Linked DNA regions of Homo sapiens. The main gene of each other region encodes a partner of the protein of the gene in region 2 in a complex. Each region holds a gene or a part of one and is shown on either strand. Other genes may lie near its edges.

Region 1 (7,033 bases), on a different chromosome or scaffold from region 2:
GCGTGAGCTACCGCGCCCAGCTAATGTATCTTGTTTTCTGAGAATTCCAGAGGTGTTGTATACTTTCTGAAGATGTCTTTCCCAGGAGTAGTGATCACCTTGCTTAAGAAGTTCTTACCTATGTCCTACTCAAATCTCTTTTACTACTGCAAATATTTTATTTTTCTTTAAAAAATATTAATAGCTCACCTTGCTTTATTTTGAATGTAGAATCACTTTTGGTGGTGTAATCTTACATGTTTTGGATTCCTTATAGGCTGATCCCAAAGTTGTCAGATGGAGAGTAAATACAAGGAGATACTCTTGCTAACAGGCCTGGATAACATCACTGATGAGGAACTGGATAGGTTTAAGTTCTTTCTTTCAGACGAGTTTAATATTGCCACAGGCAAACTACATACTGCAAACAGAATACAAGTAGCTACCTTGATGATTCAAAATGCTGGGGCGGTGTCTGCAGTGATGAAGACCATTCGTATTTTTCAGAAGTTGAATTATATGCTTTTGGCAAAACGTCTTCAGGAGGAGAAGGAGAAAGGTAATGTGGGAGTTCCACACCTGCCCCGTCCCTTTTTCTGCCAAGCCTGGGCCTTTCCTTTCATGGCATCCCTGGGATATGACCCCCAGTGCACATTGTTGGAATTTGTTTGCTAACTTAGTGCACCTGTCTCTTTGCCCCCTTTTACTGAGAATCGCTTCTAGGAAGTGTTTGTTACAAATTCCACAAATCCATTCCAGCCTTTGTTTGCATCTCTTCTTCCAGCCTTAGGGTTACCACTTCCATTTAACATCTTTTCTCCTTGCCCATCTTTGTCTCCAGTTCAGTTGCAGTGAATATGGACGTAGAATTTCAAAGTTAACTTCTCCCAACTCCATTTACACAGTATGTAATGCTGTCACATTCTACTGAAGTCTTGAAAGTATAAATTATTGCATTGGAAAACTGTAAACCAGGATATTGAGCACCTTTTTTCCTTCACACAGTCTGTCTATTCCTCTCCTTGTCCCCAGCTTTCTGTGGTCCCAGACTATCCTTCTTTAGGCGATGATCTCCTCCTTCTTCAGAAGGGAGGGAGAATCCACCTTCAGGGATTTTCTTTCCTCTCTATCTCCAGTACAGGTGACAGTATAAATTACCCACAACACAAAGATTTTTTTTACATTATTCAATAAATCACTCATCTCCATCTGAATTATCTACATTTAGTTTAAATTCCTGATTTTGTTTACTAAGAACAATTGATATGTCCCAGCTTTATGTCTGAAGAACAAAAAGGAGCTAACAGAGGAGCATATCACTCAAGGACTCTCCAAAATGAAAGTCTCCAAATGCAACAGTTTTAGGATTCAAAGTACAACAGTAGCAGCAAAAATTATAATAGCTTTTAGTAGCATTTGTGGGTGTACAACAAGGGTGACATGGCTTCTCACACATGAGTTATAGGAAGGCTAAATGAAGCCACATAAGTGATACTATGTACATTCATAATTCTATACAGATATAAACTGTTAGGTAGTTTCTAAGGCACTAAAGAGAAAGGAGTGGTGGTTTTCCCAGGCTTTAAGTTAGAAGGTGTAGTTCTTAGAGATGGCCCTTAGATGGCAGTAACTACACATGTTACTTCCAAGTAACCAACCAAAACATTGCCCTGTGTTTTTCTTATCTGGGATGAGCCAGGAATCTAGGCATATTGGCAAACATAGGCTGAGATATTTAGAAATATCTTTTATTTTGGTAATAAATCAAGAATTAATTCTTCTCTTTGACCAGGATAGAACAAAATTTCCCCTTCTACAATCTTCTCCCCATTTTGCTATTCTAATGATTCTGGGATTTTGTTATTCTGCTTAGCTAAAAAAGATCCAGTTTGGGACTAGCTTGGAAACTCAGGAGTAGATTATCCAAGGACTCTCCCAAATGAGAGTCTCCAAATGTAACAGTTGTAGGATTCAAAGTATGCTTTTGGGCCAGGCGCAGTGGCTCACGCCTTTAATCCCAGCACTTTGGGAGGCCAAGGCGGGTGGATCACTTGAGTTCAGGAGTTCGAGATCAGCCTGGCCAACATAGTGAAACTTTGTCTCTACTAAAAATACAAAAATTAGCCAGGCATGGTGGCGGGCATCTGTAATGCCAGCTACTTGGGAGGCTGAGGCACGAGAATCACTTGAACCTGGGAGGGAGAGGTTGCAGTGAGCTGAGATCACACCTCTGCACTCCTGCCTGGGCAACAACAGTGAGACCCTGTCTCAAACAACAACAACAACAAAACACAAAGTATGCTTCTTGCATGCTATACAAGAAGGCAGTTAAGTTCCTTCATAGCTCTAAAATTCTATCCACGGACATACTTAGGCCGCTTTTGAATGTAGGAAATTTTTGTGTGTCCATGCTATTTCTATTATTTTAGGAAAACAGTTTTTGTTTTATTTTTTGAACAGTTAATCTGTCATTCTTGGTTAAGTGATCCTTCTCCATTGCCATTGCATGTCTGCATGTAGAGTGCTATATGCTATTCTACTCATGACCTCACCTCATGGAAGGTAGAAGATACCTGGAGAATCTTTAATGAAGACAGAGGCAATAATTAGTAGACAGGAGAAGCTTTTGTATGAAGCAAGATGAGAAAATATAAGGACACATAAGCGTAGAAAAAGGAAGCTAAGAGAAAATGTGATCAAAGTCCACAAAAGTCCTGCAAGATTAAAATAAAATGCTGAAAATGATAAATGAAATAATCAGTAACAATGTGCACCTGATTATTAAGGCAAATGAGAGATTTATAATTGGCAGACAAGCTTGTCCACAAATATTGCATTGGTACCACAGTGTGTGAAATGAAATATGGCTGATGTGATGTGGTAGAATGGTAGGTTGATTCCTTCCGCCTCCCTTGATGCTGTTTTCTCTCCGATGCTGTGAACATAGAAGAGAGACTTTATCTGCATACCTTTCTGAAACCAATTTCATGGAACTAACTTACCATTGGAAGGTTAGTTTAACTTCTTCCTAGTGCAGAGATCCTGCTACAATATCCCTGTCAGACAGTCAACCACTTTCTGATCTTTGAAAGGTAATGACAGAGTACCTACTACCTCATAAGACAGTTCATTCTACTCTTAGCTCTAATAATTAAATCGTTTCTCTTTTTAGTAAAATCAGTGATTGCCTTGCTATTTCAGTCCAGAATTGTTCAAATTCTATCAGAAATAACATCTAATAATTTCCCAGGCCCTCTTCTGCCTGAGAGTGCCTTAAGTCATCAAACATGGCCATCTTGTTACATGGTCTTTTTAAAAATCAGGAGTAGGAGTTGGCTTTTCACGATAACATATAACCTGACCATAGACGTGGAGGAGCCCAGCCAGAGTATACGACTGCATTTTGTAGGCATTAGTGAGGAGCCAACATGCCACCCATCCATCCATTTCTTCATCCATTCAGTAAATATCCATTGAATTGCTAATAGGTACAAGGAAAGCTTTTAGGTTCTTATGATAAAACAAGGTTTTAAAAACAAATCCAAATTTTGTACAGTTTATACTCTAAAGGGAAAGTAGATATTTTTCTTACAGGCAAATTAACTGAGACAGGTAACTAACTGAGACAAATGTTCTGATGGAAAGGAAGATGGTTCTTCAGCAGCATGTGTCAAAGGAGCATTAACATAAGCCAGGAGTTAGAGTTGGTGTTGGTCAAAGCGGGTTCCATGGGGAAGTGACTTGCACTAAGCTGTGAAAAATGCATAGGAGTTAAAGGTACCTTCAGTCAGAGGGAACACTGTGTGAAAATCCCTCTGACAGCAGGTGTTGACTTGCTTGAGGACTGAAAGAAGGCCAGTATGGCTGCAGTACAGAGAATCTTCAGAGGGCAGGATGGGGTCCCCTCGACAGAAGGAAAATGCAAGGCCTTGTAGAACATAATTAGAAATCTGTGGCCAGGCGCGGTGGCTCACGCCTGTAATCCCAACACTTTGGGAGGCTGAGGTGGGCGCATCACGAGGTGAGGAGCTCAAGACCAGCCTTAACAACATGGTGAAACCCCATCTTTACTAAAAAAATACAAAAATTAGTCAGGCGTGGTGGCATGAGCCTGTAATCCCAGCTACTCAGGAGGCTGAGGCAGGAGAATCACTTGAACCCAGGAGGCAGAGGTTGCAGTGAGCCAAGATTGCGCCACTGCACTCCAGCTTGGGTGACGGAGTGAGACTCCGTCTCAAAAAAAAAAAAAAGAAAGAAATCAGCCCTTGTTTCATAGCAGCAGTTTATTCATTTTCACTACTACATAAGATTCCATTTAATTGATAATTACATATACACATAAACTGATATACATATATATAGAGAGAGAGAATTGGTGTATTTTTATTGTTATTTTAGTCATTGGAGGCCATTATGAATAATGCTGCTATGAATATTTATGTACATTATAAGCCTTATATACTTATCTTTGTATGTTTGTATTTGTATGTGTGTTTCTCTTGACTGTACACCTGTGAATGGTATTACTGGATGTTAAGGTAAGTAGATATTGAATTTTAATAAATAGCGTCCCAAACCATTTTCCAAAGTGTTATACCAATTTAAGACGACTACTACTTCATAGTTTTTGTTTCTTGTCTTTTTTTTTTTTTTGAGACAGACAGGGTCTCACTGTGTCATCCAAGCTGGAGTGCAGTGGTGCAATCATGACTCACTGCAGCTTTGAACTCCTGGGCTTAAGTTATCCTTGCCTCAGCCTCCCAAGTAGCTGGGACTAAAAACATGTGCCATTATACCTGGCTAATTTTGAAAATATTTTTTGTAAAGATAGGGTCTCCCTATGTTGACTAAGCTGGTCTCAAACCCCTGGCCTCAAGTGATCCTCCAGCCTTGGCCTCCCAAAGTGCTGGGATTACTGGTGTCTGTGCCAGGTCCAGTTTCTTTCATTTTAAAATATGATTTTTTTTTAAGAAAAATTAGCTGTTCTTGAAGATATCTTAATATGGTTTTAGTATTTATTCCTGGTGACATTTGAAAATGTGCACTGCTCATATGTTTATATGCTTATTGGCCATGTCTTTCATTTTTTAATCAGTTGATAAGCAATACAAATCGGTAACAAAACCAAAGCCACTAAGTCAAGCTGAAATGAGTCCTGCTGCATCTGCAGCCATCAGAAATGATGTCGCAAAGCAACGTGCTGCACCAAAAGTCTCTCCTCATGTTAAGGTAGGATAAGGAGAGTGGAGTGGTCTTTGTCCTTGTAAGAGCATCACTGTCACTGTCACTTCCCATATTGTTCTCTGTTCTTTATCTCACAGCATGCAAATAAGGGAAGCAAGGCCACAGCATGAAAAGCATTCTGAGTCACAAAAACAGGAACTACCTTTGATTCATCAGATTAAACACCTGTTGAGCTTCTAATCTCTGCCAGGTTCTGGACACATTAACACTTTGTTATGTTTTGGATTCTATAAGAAGAAAACTCTGAGATAGACCGTTGTTTACAGGAAGTCTATTTTAGAGCACTTTCAGAATTAATATCTGTGAGGAAGTGAAAGGAGAAGAAGAGGAAGAATGTCAAGTCCAATGTAGTTGCAATAGAGGCCTTGGCCTACCCTACAGGGAGCTCGGGAGCTGAGAATGTCTTTCAGGGCTCCCAAGATTTGTGAGGGAGTCTGTGGTTTGTACAGGCCCAGGCTCTGGGTCACATCAGAGATCCAATTCAGAGACTCTGACACTCGGTCTGGCATGCCTCTGTTTGTTTTCTGCTTGGTTCTTGACAGCAAATTGCTTTTTTAAAAGTAATGTAAAAAAGCCCTTTATACACCTGCATGGACAAGGTGAGGTGGCCCCATTTAGCTGAGAGAGTAGTGGCTGGAGAGTGTCATTGGTGAGAATGATTACTTTAGTCCTGAGGGAGTGGCAGACAACGTTAGAAAGGCCCAGCACAGAATCCACCACACATGCAGTTTCATTTCCTATGAAGCAGGTATTACATTATTTTATACCTGTGTGAGCTCTAAAAACTGATGATATATACTTCATTCTCTTTGTCTAGAGGAACCATTTCCTCTGGGTTTGGCCCAGAAACTTCTGGATTTTTCAGGAAAACAAGGTTCAAGTATAAATGGTGTGATTCCCTCATCAGTAATGAAAATATGCATTTTTCAGTCTGGAAGACCCAAATAAAGATACATGGACCAAAGAGAAGGACTTCTGTAGTGGACCTCAGTGGAGCTGACCTTTCCCTGCATTGATCCAAATGCAGTCAGTTATGCTGCCCATCAGGGCCCCTTACTGGCCCAAGCTCCACTGCCCCAAGCTCCAGGTCACATCAGAGACACCCTTCAGAGACTCCTACGCTTGGCTTTTTATGCCTCTGTTTGTTTTGCCCTGTATTTCCCTTTGGTTCTAAATGGCAAGTGGCTTTTAAAAAGTAGTATTTTCTCCCAAAACAAACCAAAAAGAGGTGTCTTATCTCTGTTAATTCAGAAAAATAAAAAACACAGAGAAGAGAATAAAATTATCTATAATTGTATCGTCTAGGAAAAAAATACATTGATGTTGGTAAATATCTCTCTAGTGTGTTTGTGTGTGTGCTTTAACTGCTTATTTATCCAATAAGAAACAGATTGTTTATCTGTTTAGGACCTTTCCCTTTATTGAATCAGTTATAACAGTTTATCATATTTCTCTAAAGCATTTTTAATATTTGCACAGTAATCTTTTTGTGACTATACCTATTTTATTTAACCAAATCTATTTTTTAGGTATTTAAATTATTTCTTTTTTTATAATTTCAAATAATAAGATGTACTTTTTAAATATAAACCTTAGTGCATAATTCATTATTTAAGGGTAAATCCATAAATGTAGTATTAATTCTCCTTTTAAATTTCTCCTTTAACTCACTCATAAGATCTCTGAACTAGGTCTCCCCCTTAACTCACATTAAATGTAATCTGCATTTTGTTATGTACAATGCTCCCTAGGAATTTGGGGAGCCCTGTGCTGGTCACTGAGCTCCCTCACTTTTATACCAGAGTAAAAT
Region 2 (7,033 bases):
AGATGGAGCCACTGCACTCCAGCCTGGGTGACAAAGTGAGACTCCGTCTCAAAAAAACAAACAAAAAAACCAAAATAAAAGAAAAATAATAGACAAAGAACATAGACAATTCAAAAAAGAAACTGAACAACATACTTCAGAAAAGATATTTGGCCTCGCCAACAGAGAAAGGCAAAATGAACCCGTTACAATTTTTCATCCATTAGATTGAAATTTTTGAAAGATTAGTGATACAGTGTGTTGGTGAAAATGCAGAATAACAAGCAGTCTTCTGCAGTGTTGGTAAGAGTGGCGAAGTTTATTAGAAGGTGAGGCACCCAACAAACTCCACAAGCCCATAAGTTTGGCTGCAGTTCTACTCTCAGTAATCTATACTGCTCACGTGCACTCAAAGATGTAGTTTCCATTCTTTGCACCTTAGTTTATAAGAGTGAAAAATTAGAAACAACTCAAATGTCCATAAGTAACTGCCCTAAATTATGATTCATCTAAACTACAGAATACTAATAGCCATTTAAAAGAAAGAGGTGGAAACTAACATGTAATGATATAGAAAGATCTTCAAGATTAGCTGTTAGTGAAAAAAATAAGTCACAAAACAATACTTACAGTGTGGTCCTTTTAATGTTAAAGATATATATATTTTGGCCTGGTGCAGTGGCTCATGCCTGTAATTCCAGCACTATGGGAGGCGGAGTTGTACAGATCACTTGAGGTGAGGAGTTGGAGACCAGCTGGCCAACATGGTAAAACCCCGTCTCTACTAATAATACAAAAAAAACTGGCCAGGTATGGTGGTGCATGTCCATAATCCCAGCTACTCAGGAGGCTGAGGCATGAGAATTGCTTGAACCCGGGAGGTGGAGGTTGCAGTGAGCCAAGATTGTGCCACTACACTCCATCCTGGGCAACAGAGTGAAACTGTGTCTCAAATATATATATATTTCTGGAATGTGTGTGCAAATTCCTAGAGAGAGAATAAGAGTGATATGCATCACACTCTGGATAAGGCTTACCTCTAGAGAATGGAAGAGTAGGTGCTGAAGGAATGTTTGGATGTTATTCTATGTGATTCTGCATTGTTTGAATCTTTGGGGGTTTTTTTGGTTTTCTTTTTGAGACGGTCTTACTCTGTCACCCAGGCTGGAGTGCAGTGACACAATCTGGGCTCACTACAACCTCCACCTCCCGGGTTCAAGTGATTCTCGTGCCTCAGCCTCCCGAGTAGCTGGGATTACAGGCGTGTACCACCACACCCAGCTAATTTTTTTGTACTTTTAGTAGAGATGGGGTTTCACCATGTTGGCCAGGCTGGTCTTGAACTCCTGACCTCAAGCGATCTGCTCGCCTCGGCCTCCTAGAGTGCTGGGATTACAGGCGTGAGCCACCATGTCTGGCCTGTTTGAATCTTTCAAAAGGACTTTGTACTTAACATATTTGTGTAATAAAAATAACTATAAAAAGAAAATCAATTTGATAAAATTAAAATAACAAAAATACTTTTCATATTAGGCTAAGCAGGGTGGCTCGTGCCTGTAATCTCAGCACTTTGGGAGGCTGAGGTGGGTGGATTTCTTGAGGCCAGTTCAAAACCAGCAACATGGCAAAAACCGATCTCTACAAAAAACACAAAAATTAGCCAAGCGTGGTGGCGCATGCCTGTTGTCCCAGCTACACAGGAGGCTGAGGTGGCAGGCTCTCTTGAGCCTGGAGGTTGAGCCTGCACTCTAGCCTGGAGGACACAGTGAGACTCTGTCTCAAGAAAAAAAACAACAAAAAACCCTTTTCATGTTAATTAAAAACAATAAACATACAGCTGGGTGAGGTGGCTCATGCCTGTAATCCCAGCTCTTTGGGAGGACAAGCTGGGAGGATTGCTTGAGCCCAGGAGTTGGAGGTTTCAGTGAGCTATGACCATGCCACTGCACTCCTGCCTGGGCGACAGAGGCAGATTTGATCTCTAAAAATAAACATGCAAAGAGACAAAAACAATATATAGAATGCTACAAAGTGTGAACATAATTAATACCCTCTGTCATTCTCCCCTAGATCATGCATGTATTCATTTAGCTAGTATTTTTGACCACTTATTTATATAGCAGACAATCGTTAACAGCAAAATACAAATAAAACTAGGAAAAAAAAAACTTGAAGGAAAAATACCAAAGTGTTAACATTTTATCTTTGGGTGTAGGGCAAAACTATGGATAGGTTTTAAGAATATATAATTTTCTATGTTTTCTATAATGAGGATTATTGCTCCTATAAGGAAAAAGTTTTTTACTGTGGCAAAATATACTTAACATAAAATTCTCTATTTTAACCATTTTTAAGTGAACAATCCAGTGGCATTAAGTACATTCATAATGTTGTGCGGCCATTACCACTATCTATATCTAGAACTTTTTTATCATCCCAAACTGAAACTCTGTACCTGCTAAACGGTAACTCCCCATTCCTCCCTCTCCCAGCCCCTGGTAGCTTCTATTCTGTTTTCTGTCTCTGAATTCTAGGTAGCTCCTAGCAAAAGGATCACACAATGTATTTCCTTTGGAGTCTGGCATATTTCACTTAGCATAATGTTTTCAAGGTTCATCTGTTTCATAGCATGTATCAGAATTTCATTCCCTTTTATGGCTGAATAACATTCCATCATATGGATATACAGGTTGAACATCCCTAAACCCAAAATCCAAAATTCAAAATCCTCCAAAATCTGAAACGTTTTGAGTGCCAGCATGATGCCACAAGTGGAAAATACCACACCTGACACCTCTGCTTTCTGATAGTTCAGTATCCTCAAACTTTGTTTCATGCACAAAATTATTAAAATATGGTATAAAGTGACCTTCAGGCTATGTGTATAAGGTGCATATGAAACACAAATAAACTTCATGTTTAGACTTAGGTCCTCTCCCCACGATCTGTCATTCTGTACATGCAAATATTCCCAAATTGGAAACAATCCAAAATCCAAAACACTTCTAATCCCAAGCATTTTGGATAAGGGATACTACACCTGCACCATATTTTGAGTTCCTGCCTTCAGTTCTTTGGGGTATATATATCCGGGTGTGGAATTGCTAGATCATATGGTAATTCTATGTATAACTTTTTGTTTTTCTGAGACAGAGTCTCCCTCTGTTGCCCAGGCTGGAATGCAGTGGCACCATCTCGGCTCACTGCAACCTCCGCCTCCCGGGTTCAAGCGATTCTCCTGCCTCACCTTCCCGAGTAGCTGGGATTACAGGCATACACCACCACGCCCGGCTAGTTTTTTGTATTTTTAGTAGAGATGGGGTGGTTTCACCATGTTGTCCAGGCTGGTCTCAAACTCCTAACCTCAGGTGATCTGAGGTCCCAAAGTGCTGGGATTACAGGCGTGAGCTCCCATGCCCGGCCATGTTTAACTTTTAAGTACTGTTAAAATTGTTTTACATGGTAGCTACACCATTTTATATTCCCCACCAGCAATGCACAAGGATTCTAATTTCTCCACCATCTTACCAACACTTTTTATTTACCATTTTTATATTATAGTCACTCTAAGGAGTGTGAAAGTGTACCTCATGGTGGTTTTGACTTGCATTTCCCTATGACTCATGATGTTGAGCATCTTCATGGCTTATTGGCCATTTGTATATCTTCTATGGAGAAACTGCTATTCAAGTTCTTTGCCCATTTTTGAATTGGGTTGTTTGTTTTTTGTTGTTGAGTTGTAGGATTTTTTTTTTTTATGTTCTGGATTTCATCCGTTTTCAGATATATATTGTTTGCAACTTTTTCCCCATTATTTTATTTTATTTATTTATTTTTTTTTTGGAGACAGAATCTTGCTCTGTCGCCACCCAGACTGGAGTGCAGTGGCAGAATGTTGGTTCACTGCAACCTCTGCCTCCCAGGTTCAAGAGATAACTCCTGCCTCAGCCTCCCGAGTAGCTAGGACTACAGGCACACACCATCATGCCTGGTTAGTTTTTGTATTTTTAGTAGAGACAAGGTTTCACCATGTTGGCCTGGCAGGTCTCGAACTCCTGACCTCATGGGATCCACCTGCCTTGGCCTCCCAAAGTATTTTTTCCTTATTCTGTAGGTTATCTTTTTACTCTTTTCATAGTATCCTTTGATGCACAGAAGCTTTTAATTCTGATGTATTATTTTTACTCTTTACTTTTGTTTGTGCTTTTGTGTCATAACCAAGAAATCGCTGCCAAGTCCAATGTCATGAAGCTTTTTCCCTGTGTTTTCTTCTAAGAATTTTTGTGGCACTAGCCCTTAAATTAAGTCTTTGATCCATTGTGAGTTAATTTTTATATGGTATGAAATAAGGGTCCAACTTCATTATTTCATATGTGTATATTCAGTTTTCCCCCATCGAATGCTCTTGGCAACCTTGTCAAAAATCAATTGGCCATTTATAGGAGGGTTTATTCCTAGGCTTTCCATTCTGCCCCACTGGCATATGTGCCTGTCTTTATGCCAGTCCTACGCTGTTTTGAATACTGTAGCTTTGTAGTAAGTTTTGAAATCAGGAAGTGTGAGTCCTACAACCTTGTTCTTTTTAAAGATCATTTTGGCTATTTGGGAAAAACATTAATTTTAAAAAATTACTACTTGTAAGATCTGTGTGAAATTTCTACCTTCTGAAAATATGAATTCTTCTCGTTAAAATTTTCTGGGACTCTATTTCCTGCTGTTCACTAAAGTGTGTATTTATGCTCTTAATTATAGAAAGAGTATTCAAACGAAAATGCAGTTGTGAAGAGAATGCAGTCTCTTCAACTTGATTGTGTGGCAGTACCTTCAAGCCGGTCAAATTCAGGTAAATTACACTATGGTCAAAATCTATTCATTTATTTGTTTGGTTACTCATTCACTCCACTCTCTAAAAGACTATTCAGGACCATATGGGAAACAGAAGAAACTATAAAAGTGAACACCTGCCTTACAGGAATTTATAATAATATTCGAGAGTCAAGTTACATGTATTTGAAATATGAAGTAACAGTGTGCTCACCAGTCATAGAGTGTTCTGAACAAAAGGCCTAATATATCTGATGGGGAGAAGTGACAGTTCAGAAGAAGGAAGGGGACATATGTGAGAGCAAAGTCCCTGAGGAGCTCGGAGTGACTTACAGCCAGGGTACAAGCAGAGAGGCTGGTCTCAGGTCAAGTAGGGATACTTTTTTCACTGTAACAAAAGGGATGGCAGAGTATAGGATACTGAAGCCGCTTAGCTACCTGATCTGTGGCTAATTACTTAACCTCTTCTAAACTTCACTCATCAAATCATAATTGCTCCTCCTCTCATAGGGCTCTTCAAGAATGAAAGAATTCATGGGACATGCTTAGGACAGAGCTGCTGCAGATCTTTTTTTTTTGGAGACAGAGTCTGTCACCCCGGCTGGAGTGCAGTAGTGTGATCTTGGCTCACTACAACCTCCGCCTTTCAGGTTCAAGCGATTCTTCTGCCTCAGCCTCCCAAGCAGCAGGGATTACAGGCATGCACCACCATGCCCGGCTAATTTTTGTATTTTCAGTAGAGATGGGGTTTCGCCATGTTGGCCAGGCTGGTCTCGAACTCCTGACCTCAGGTGATCCGTCCGCCTCAGCCTCCCAACGTGCTAGGATTACAGGCGTGAGCCACCGCACCCAGCCACAGATCTTATTTTCCACCTGAATTGCTCCAAGGAGACAACCACCTTCTCTGCTCCAAACCAAGTCCCTTTTTTCCTTGATCATCCCTGCAACAGCCGCTTTTCTCTTGCTTGCTATAATTTTCCTAGTACTCTCTTACTGCCAGCGAGGAGCTCCTATTATTATTTGTAAAGCTTGTGGGAAGAGGACCATCTCCTAAATGCTTTGGACTGGTCTCGTACTTGTTTTCTGTGTGTTACTTTGAGATACAGATTCATGACGGCGCTCAGATTTTATTTTACTTTTTAATGTTTCATGACACCCATTCTAATGTTGATCATTTCTTCTCAGCCACAGAACAGCCTGGTTCACTGCACAGTTCCCAGGGACTTGGGATGGGTCCTGTGGAGGAGTCCTGGTTTGCTCCTTCCCTGGAGCACCCACAAGAAGAGAATGAGCCCAGCCTGCAGAGTAAACTCCAAGACGAAGCCAACTACCATCTTTATGGCAGCCGCATGGACAGGCAGACGAAACAGCAGCCCAGACAGAATGTGGCTTACAACAGAGAGGAGGAAAGGAGACGCAGGGTCTCCCATGACCCTTTTGCACAGCAAAGACCTTACGAGAATTTTCAGAATACAGAGGGAAAAGGCACTGCTTATTCCAGTGCAGCCAGTCATGGTAATGCAGTGCACCAGCCCTCAGGGCTCACCAGCCAACCTCAAGTACTGTATCAGAACAATGGATTATATAGCTCACATGGCTTTGGAACAAGACCACTGGATCCAGGAACAGCAGGTCCCAGAGTTTGGTACAGGCCAATTCCAAGTCATATGCCTAGTCTGCATAATATCCCAGTGCCTGAGACCAACTATCTAGGAAATACACCCACCATGCCATTCAGCTCCTTGCCACCAACAGGTAAATGGGTCTTCGATAGTCACAAGCTTGTCTTTTTTTATTTTTCAGAAAATACAGCAACCAAGCAGCTCTATTATAGATTGTGGGTTATAATGGGGACAGAGGGCATCATCAGCTGCCAGATGCAAATTGCCCCTGTGGAATGGACCCTGCCAAACCACTTGGTCTGGGAGTATTTCATCTGGGGCTAGGATTCATCACAGATGCCCGCAAGCATCGGGTTACAGGTCCTTGTGACTGGCAGGCATCTTTGACTCTAACCTGGAGTGCATAGTAGTCCTATTTCACCCAATCTCTGATAAATGGGAAGTTATCTGCTTATTTGCTTTTACCTTGCTTGCTACTTTTTGAAGGTAAGAAATCAGTCTTGGATATTTTTGTTTCTGACCTTATATAGCTCAAAGACTACCATTAGTGATGAAAAATTTTCTTTTAACTCCCATATCTCTATCAGGTGAAGTAAAAGGTAGGTGAT
Region 3 (5,140 bases), on a different chromosome or scaffold from region 2:
GGAGCTAAAAGTCCAGGAGCCCAGAAGTAGAGGCCAGGAGTCAGCCCAGCCACTAGGAGCCTGGTAACCGACAGTTTCCTTCTTTTTTCTCCTAGGACATTGGAGACATCTTGCACAGGTACAGCGAGGTCCTGTGGTGTACCCTGGGGTGTCTTGCAGAAAGCATATGGGGGAGACAGTCCCAGAAGGGACCTGGGAGGGAGATGTTCCCAACCCCGGGGTCTGTGATTCCAGACTCCTCCTTTTTTCTGCAGCTTCCCAAAGCCTCTCTGGATTTGATAGGGAGAAGGGCATCTGGTCAGCAGGGAGGCTGGCCGGGTATGGAGCTGCAGACTGGGAAGGGTGAATTCAGCCCATCCTGCTGAAACAAGATGGAGGCTCCCTAAGAAACCTTCCGAGTGCATTGTGTCCCGTGCAGTTCATCTGATGAAAGCTGCCCCTTCAGGCCTACTGGTGGCCTTGGGAAGCTTGTTTGGAGTGGAGCTGGGCTAAGCCCAGCAGGAAGGGGAGGGGAGGGAAGGGACAGGAAGAGGCTAAGCCTTAAAATCACCTGGGAGCTTTACAAAATCCCGGTGTCCTTTTGTGTCTGGCTTCTTCACTTAGCATAATGTCTTCGGGCTTCATCCGTGTTGTAACGTGTATCAGAATTTATTTTCTTTTTATGGCTGAATCATAGTCCAGTGTGTGTTCATACATTTTGCTTATCCATTCATGGATATCGGGACTTCTTCTAACTTTTGGTTTGTGAATAATGTTGCTATGAACAAGGGTGTACAAATATCTGCTTGAGACCCTGCTTTGTTATTTTGGGTACCTACCCAGAAGTGGAACTGCGGGACCATGTGGTTATCCTGTGTTTAATTTTTTTTGAGGAACCACCATCCTAATTCTCACAGGGGCTGCATCGCTTCACATTCCCACCAGCAGCACACAGGGGCTCCAGTTTCTCCACATCTTTGCCATCACTTATTTTCTTCTGTTTCACTCTCTCTCTCTCTCTTTTTTTTTGAAGACAGCGTCTTGCTCTGTCATCCAGGCTGGAGTGCAGTGGCGCGATCTTGGCTCACTACAACCTCTGCCTCCCAGGTTCAAGGGATTCTCCCACCTCAGCCTCCCTAGTAGCTGGGACTACAGGAGCGTGCCACCATGCCCAGCTAATTTTTTTGGTAGACAGGGTTTCACCATATTAGCCAGGCTGGTCTCAAACTCCTGACCTCAAGTGATCCACCCACCTTGGCCTCCCAAAGCGCTGGGATTGCAGGCGTGAGCCACCGTGCCCAGCCATTTCTCTTTCCTTCCTTCCCTCCCTCCCTCCCTTCCTTCCTTTCTTCCTTCCTTCCTTTCTTTTCTTCTTGAGACAAGGTCTCACTCCCATCACTAAGGCTGGAGAGCAGTGGCACAGTCACAGCTCACTGCAGGCTCAGCTTCCTGGGCTCGGGTGATTCTGAGTAGCTGGCATCCTGAGTAGCTGGGACTACAGGCATGTGCTACCACTTCCGGCTACTTTTTTGTATTTTTAATAGAGACAGGGTTTCGCCATGTTGCCCAAGCTGGACTTGAACTCCTGGGCTCAAGCGATCCCACTGCCCCGGCCTCCTGAAGTGCTAGGATTACAGGCATGAGCCACCATACCTGGTCTATTTTTTTCTGTTGTTGCTGTTTTTATAATAGCCATTCTAATGGATGTGAAGGGATATTTTGTTGTGTGTGTTTTTTTTTCATTTATTATCTTTTTATTTCAATAGAAAGAAAGGGGTGTATAATCAATTTGACATAGATAATTCTAGTAGATAATATCAATGTCATTTTAAGTCCATTCTGAAAACTCCTTGTGGTTTTGATATCCATGTCTTTAAAGCACCCCAGTACATGACAGTCTGTGGCCAAAGTTGAGGACCAGCATTTAGACCTCTGAATCCAGGGAAGACTTTTCTTTGTGTAGCTCAGGCTGGGCTAGGTGTGCCCTGTGGAGAATGTAGTTCATTTCCAGCTCACGGGTACTTGGGCCACCCCCTCGCTCCGGCCTTCTCTGGTCAACAGTCTTTTGTCTCTAGGGCTAAGACAGTGCCTGTCCCTGAAAAGTGGACCACTCCTCAAGAGATAAAACAAAAGATCCAACTCCTCCACCAGAAGTCAGAGTTTGTGGAGAAGAGCACAAAGTACTTCTCAGGTAGATGGGCTTGGGAGAAGATTGGAGGTGCATGCTCACTTCCTCCCTAAGATCCACATAGCCCAGAGCCCCTCACTTCCCTCCTCTTCCCCTGGTCTTGCTGACCTGCCTTCAACCTCTCCTCCATCTGTCCCTGGCTGAGGGACCTAACTCCAGCTTCTCTCTGCTCCCTTTCCCACATTTTAGAAACCCTGCGTTCAGAAATGGAAATGTTCAATGGTGAGTCCAGCGGTAATGGTGTGTGCTGGCCTGGGGTTGTTGCAGTGTTCCCTTGTGCTGTTGACTTGAGGGGCCCTATTTAGAAGACAAAAAAAAAAACCAAACACCTGGAGCAAAGGTAGGAGAAAGGTCATGGCAGGCCCCCCAGGCTCTGTGCGTGACTCATTGACTGAGTTGACTCATTAGACCACAGTCCCCAACATGGCCTGGGTTCCTGGGAGGAACGGGATTATACCCAACATAGCATGCAGGGCCCTAAGCAGGGGGTTCCTTGTCTTTCCTTGTTGTCAGGACAGTGTAATTTAGCCCCTCTTAATGCTAATGCTCAGGATTTTTTTCCCTATCTGATTTTTCTCCGTAGTTCCGGAGCTGATTGGCGCTCAGGCACATGCTGGTAAGTGCCCAGATCAAGGCAAGTGGCCCTGGCCTGCTGGATCCCTGTGCTCTCCCCTACCACGTTCCAGAAGAACTACCCTGTCCCTGTTTCCTGCAGGTGGGGAGAACCCTGTAGGGATGTTGCCCATGGACCCCTACCTAGGTATTCAAATTTTCTTTGCAGTTAATGTGATTCTGGATGCAGAAACCGCTTACCCCAACCTCATCTTCTCTGATGATCTGAAGAGTGTTAGACTTGGAAACAAGTGGGAGAGGCTGCCTGATGGCCCGCAAAGATTTGACAGCTGTATCATTGTTCTGGGCTCTCCGAGTTTCCTCTCTGGCCGCCGTTACTGGGAGGTGGAGGTTGGAGACAAGACAGCATGGATCCTGGGAGCCTGCAAGACATCCATAAGCAGGAAAGGGAACATGACTCTGTCGCCAGAGAATGGCTACTGGGTGGTGATAATGATGAAGGAAAATGAGTACCAGGCGTCCAGCGTTCCCCCGACCCGCCTGCTAATAAAGGAGCCTCCCAAGCGTGTGGGCATCTTCGTGGACTACAGAGTTGGAAGCATCTCCTTTTACAATGTGACAGCCAGATCCCACATCTATACATTCGCCAGCTGCTCTTTCTCTGGGCCCCTTCAACCTATCTTCAGCCCTGGGACACGTGATGGAGGGAAGAACACAGCTCCTCTGACTATCTGTCCAGTGGGTGGTCAGGGGCCTGACTGAATGCCCAACACTGCATCTCTCTTCCTGCTTCTGGCCTTGTATCTTGCATTCACACTCAATAGTCACGGAATGCCGACTAGGTGCTAGCTGCTATGGGAAATGCAAAAATAACAAAATAGTTACTGTGCCCACGGAGCCTACCCGATTATAGCAGAGGTAAGTTAGGAACGAACATGTTAGTCAATCCGGGTGAAGACATGTACTGATGACACACCATGGATTTCAGAGGAGGAAGTACGGAGTCGTTGCATAATCCGCCCCTGGTGGGTGGCACTCTCAGGTGCTCCTGAACAGAAGATTTGGCCCTCATTTTCCCTCAGAACCCCACGGCAAGGATATATGTCCCCTTGTTCTCTCTGCTTCTGTCTTGAGGATATGGGAAGCCTAGAGAAACGCAAGCAGACTGGATTGGGATAGAAGTATTTGTGTACCTGGATTAATGAACTATGATTTTTTTTTTTTTTTTTTGAGACCAAATCTTGCTCTGTGGCCCAGGCTGGAGTGCAGTGGCACGATCTCAGCTCACTGCAACCTCCACCTCCCAGGTTCAAGCGATTCTCCTGCCTCAGCCTCCTGAGCAGCTGGGATTACAGGTGCGTGCCACCACACCAGGCTGGTTTTCTTGTATTTTTAGTAGAGACGGGGGTTTCACCATGTTAGCCAGGCTGGTCTCGAACTCCTGACCTCAGGTGATCCACCCGCCTCAGCCTCCCAAAGTGCTGGGATTACAGGCATGAGCCACTGTGCCCGGCCTATGATTCTTTTTTTTTTTTTTTTTTGAGACAAAGTTTTGCTCTTGTCACCCAGGCTGGAGTGCAGTGGTGCAATCTTGGCTCGCAACCTCCGCCTCCCAGGTTCAAGAGATTCTCCTGCCTCAGCCTCCGAAGTAGCTGGGATTACAGGCGCCCGCCACCATGCCCGGCTAATTTTTTGCATTTTTAGTAGACATGAGGTTTCATCATGTTGGCCAGGCCGGTCTCAAACTCCTGACCTCAGGTGATGCACCCACCTCAGCCTCCCAAAGTGCAGGGATTACAGGCATGAGCCACCATGCCGGGCCATGATTCTTAAGAGAATTGACTGGGCCTCATGAATAAAAAAATTAGAAAATCTGGTCATTTGCATTTGTCACTCAATCACTGTGGAATCCCATTTCCCGACTGCATTTCAGGAAGCAGATGGGACTACTGTATGGAAAAACATTTGGCATGTATTCCAAGTGTCAGATTATTCTGTCTTGGTTTGTATGGGAAAATCTGCGGGTTGTGGAATATTAGGTTCTACTTCACACACATCCCGTGCATTTGTCCTTCATTTAAAGAGATGTAAAGGGGCCGGGCATGGTGACTCACATCTGTAATCTCAGCATTTTGGGAGGCAAAGGCGGGTGGATCGCCTGAGCCCAGGGATTGAGACCAGCTGGGCAATGTGGCGAAAACCCGTCTCTACAAAAAATACAAAAATTAGCCATAGGGATGGGGGTGGGAGGATGGCTTGAGCGCAGGAGATCGAGGCTGCAGCAGTGAACTGAGACTGCACTACGGCAATCCAGCCTGGGCAACAGAGTGAGTCCCTGTCTCCAAAAAGTGGATGTAAGAAGAAAAAAATCAAATGAAGATTAAATTCCAAACTCCTATG

The links.
Region 1: RIPK1 (region 2) and AIM2 share a complex: the UniProt entries of both Homo sapiens proteins name them as parts of the AIM2 PANoptosome complex.
Region 3: RIPK1 (region 2) and MEFV share a complex: the UniProt entries of both Homo sapiens proteins name them as parts of the AIM2 PANoptosome complex.

What each region holds. Positions count from the first base shown.
Region 1 is NC_000001.11:159,066,743-159,073,775, reverse strand, and holds part of AIM2 (interferon-inducible protein AIM2), read left to right. Parts: intron 1-256; 5' UTR 257-276; coding exon 277-538; intron 539-5,074; coding exon 5,075-5,208; intron 5,209-7,033. UniProt on the Homo sapiens protein: Sensor component of the AIM2 inflammasome, which mediates inflammasome activation in response to the presence of double-stranded DNA (dsDNA) in the cytosol, leading to subsequent pyroptosis.
Region 2 is NC_000006.12:3,099,494-3,106,526, forward strand, and holds part of RIPK1 (receptor-interacting serine/threonine-protein kinase 1), read left to right. Parts: intron 1-4,731; coding exon 4,732-4,822; intron 4,823-5,928; exon of another isoform or gene 5,929-5,988; coding exon 5,989-6,558; exon of another isoform or gene 6,559-7,033. UniProt on the Homo sapiens protein: Serine-threonine kinase which is a key regulator of TNF-mediated apoptosis, necroptosis and inflammatory pathways.
Region 3 is NC_000016.10:3,241,503-3,246,642, reverse strand, and holds the end of MEFV (pyrin), read left to right. Parts: intron 1-95; coding exon 96-118; intron 119-2,054; coding exon 2,055-2,170; intron 2,171-2,356; coding exon 2,357-2,389; intron 2,390-2,575; coding exon of another isoform or gene 2,576-2,750; coding exon 2,751-2,783; intron 2,784-2,948; coding exon 2,949-3,502; 3' UTR 3,503-4,616; downstream 4,617-5,140. UniProt on the Homo sapiens protein: Involved in the regulation of innate immunity and the inflammatory response in response to IFNG/IFN-gamma.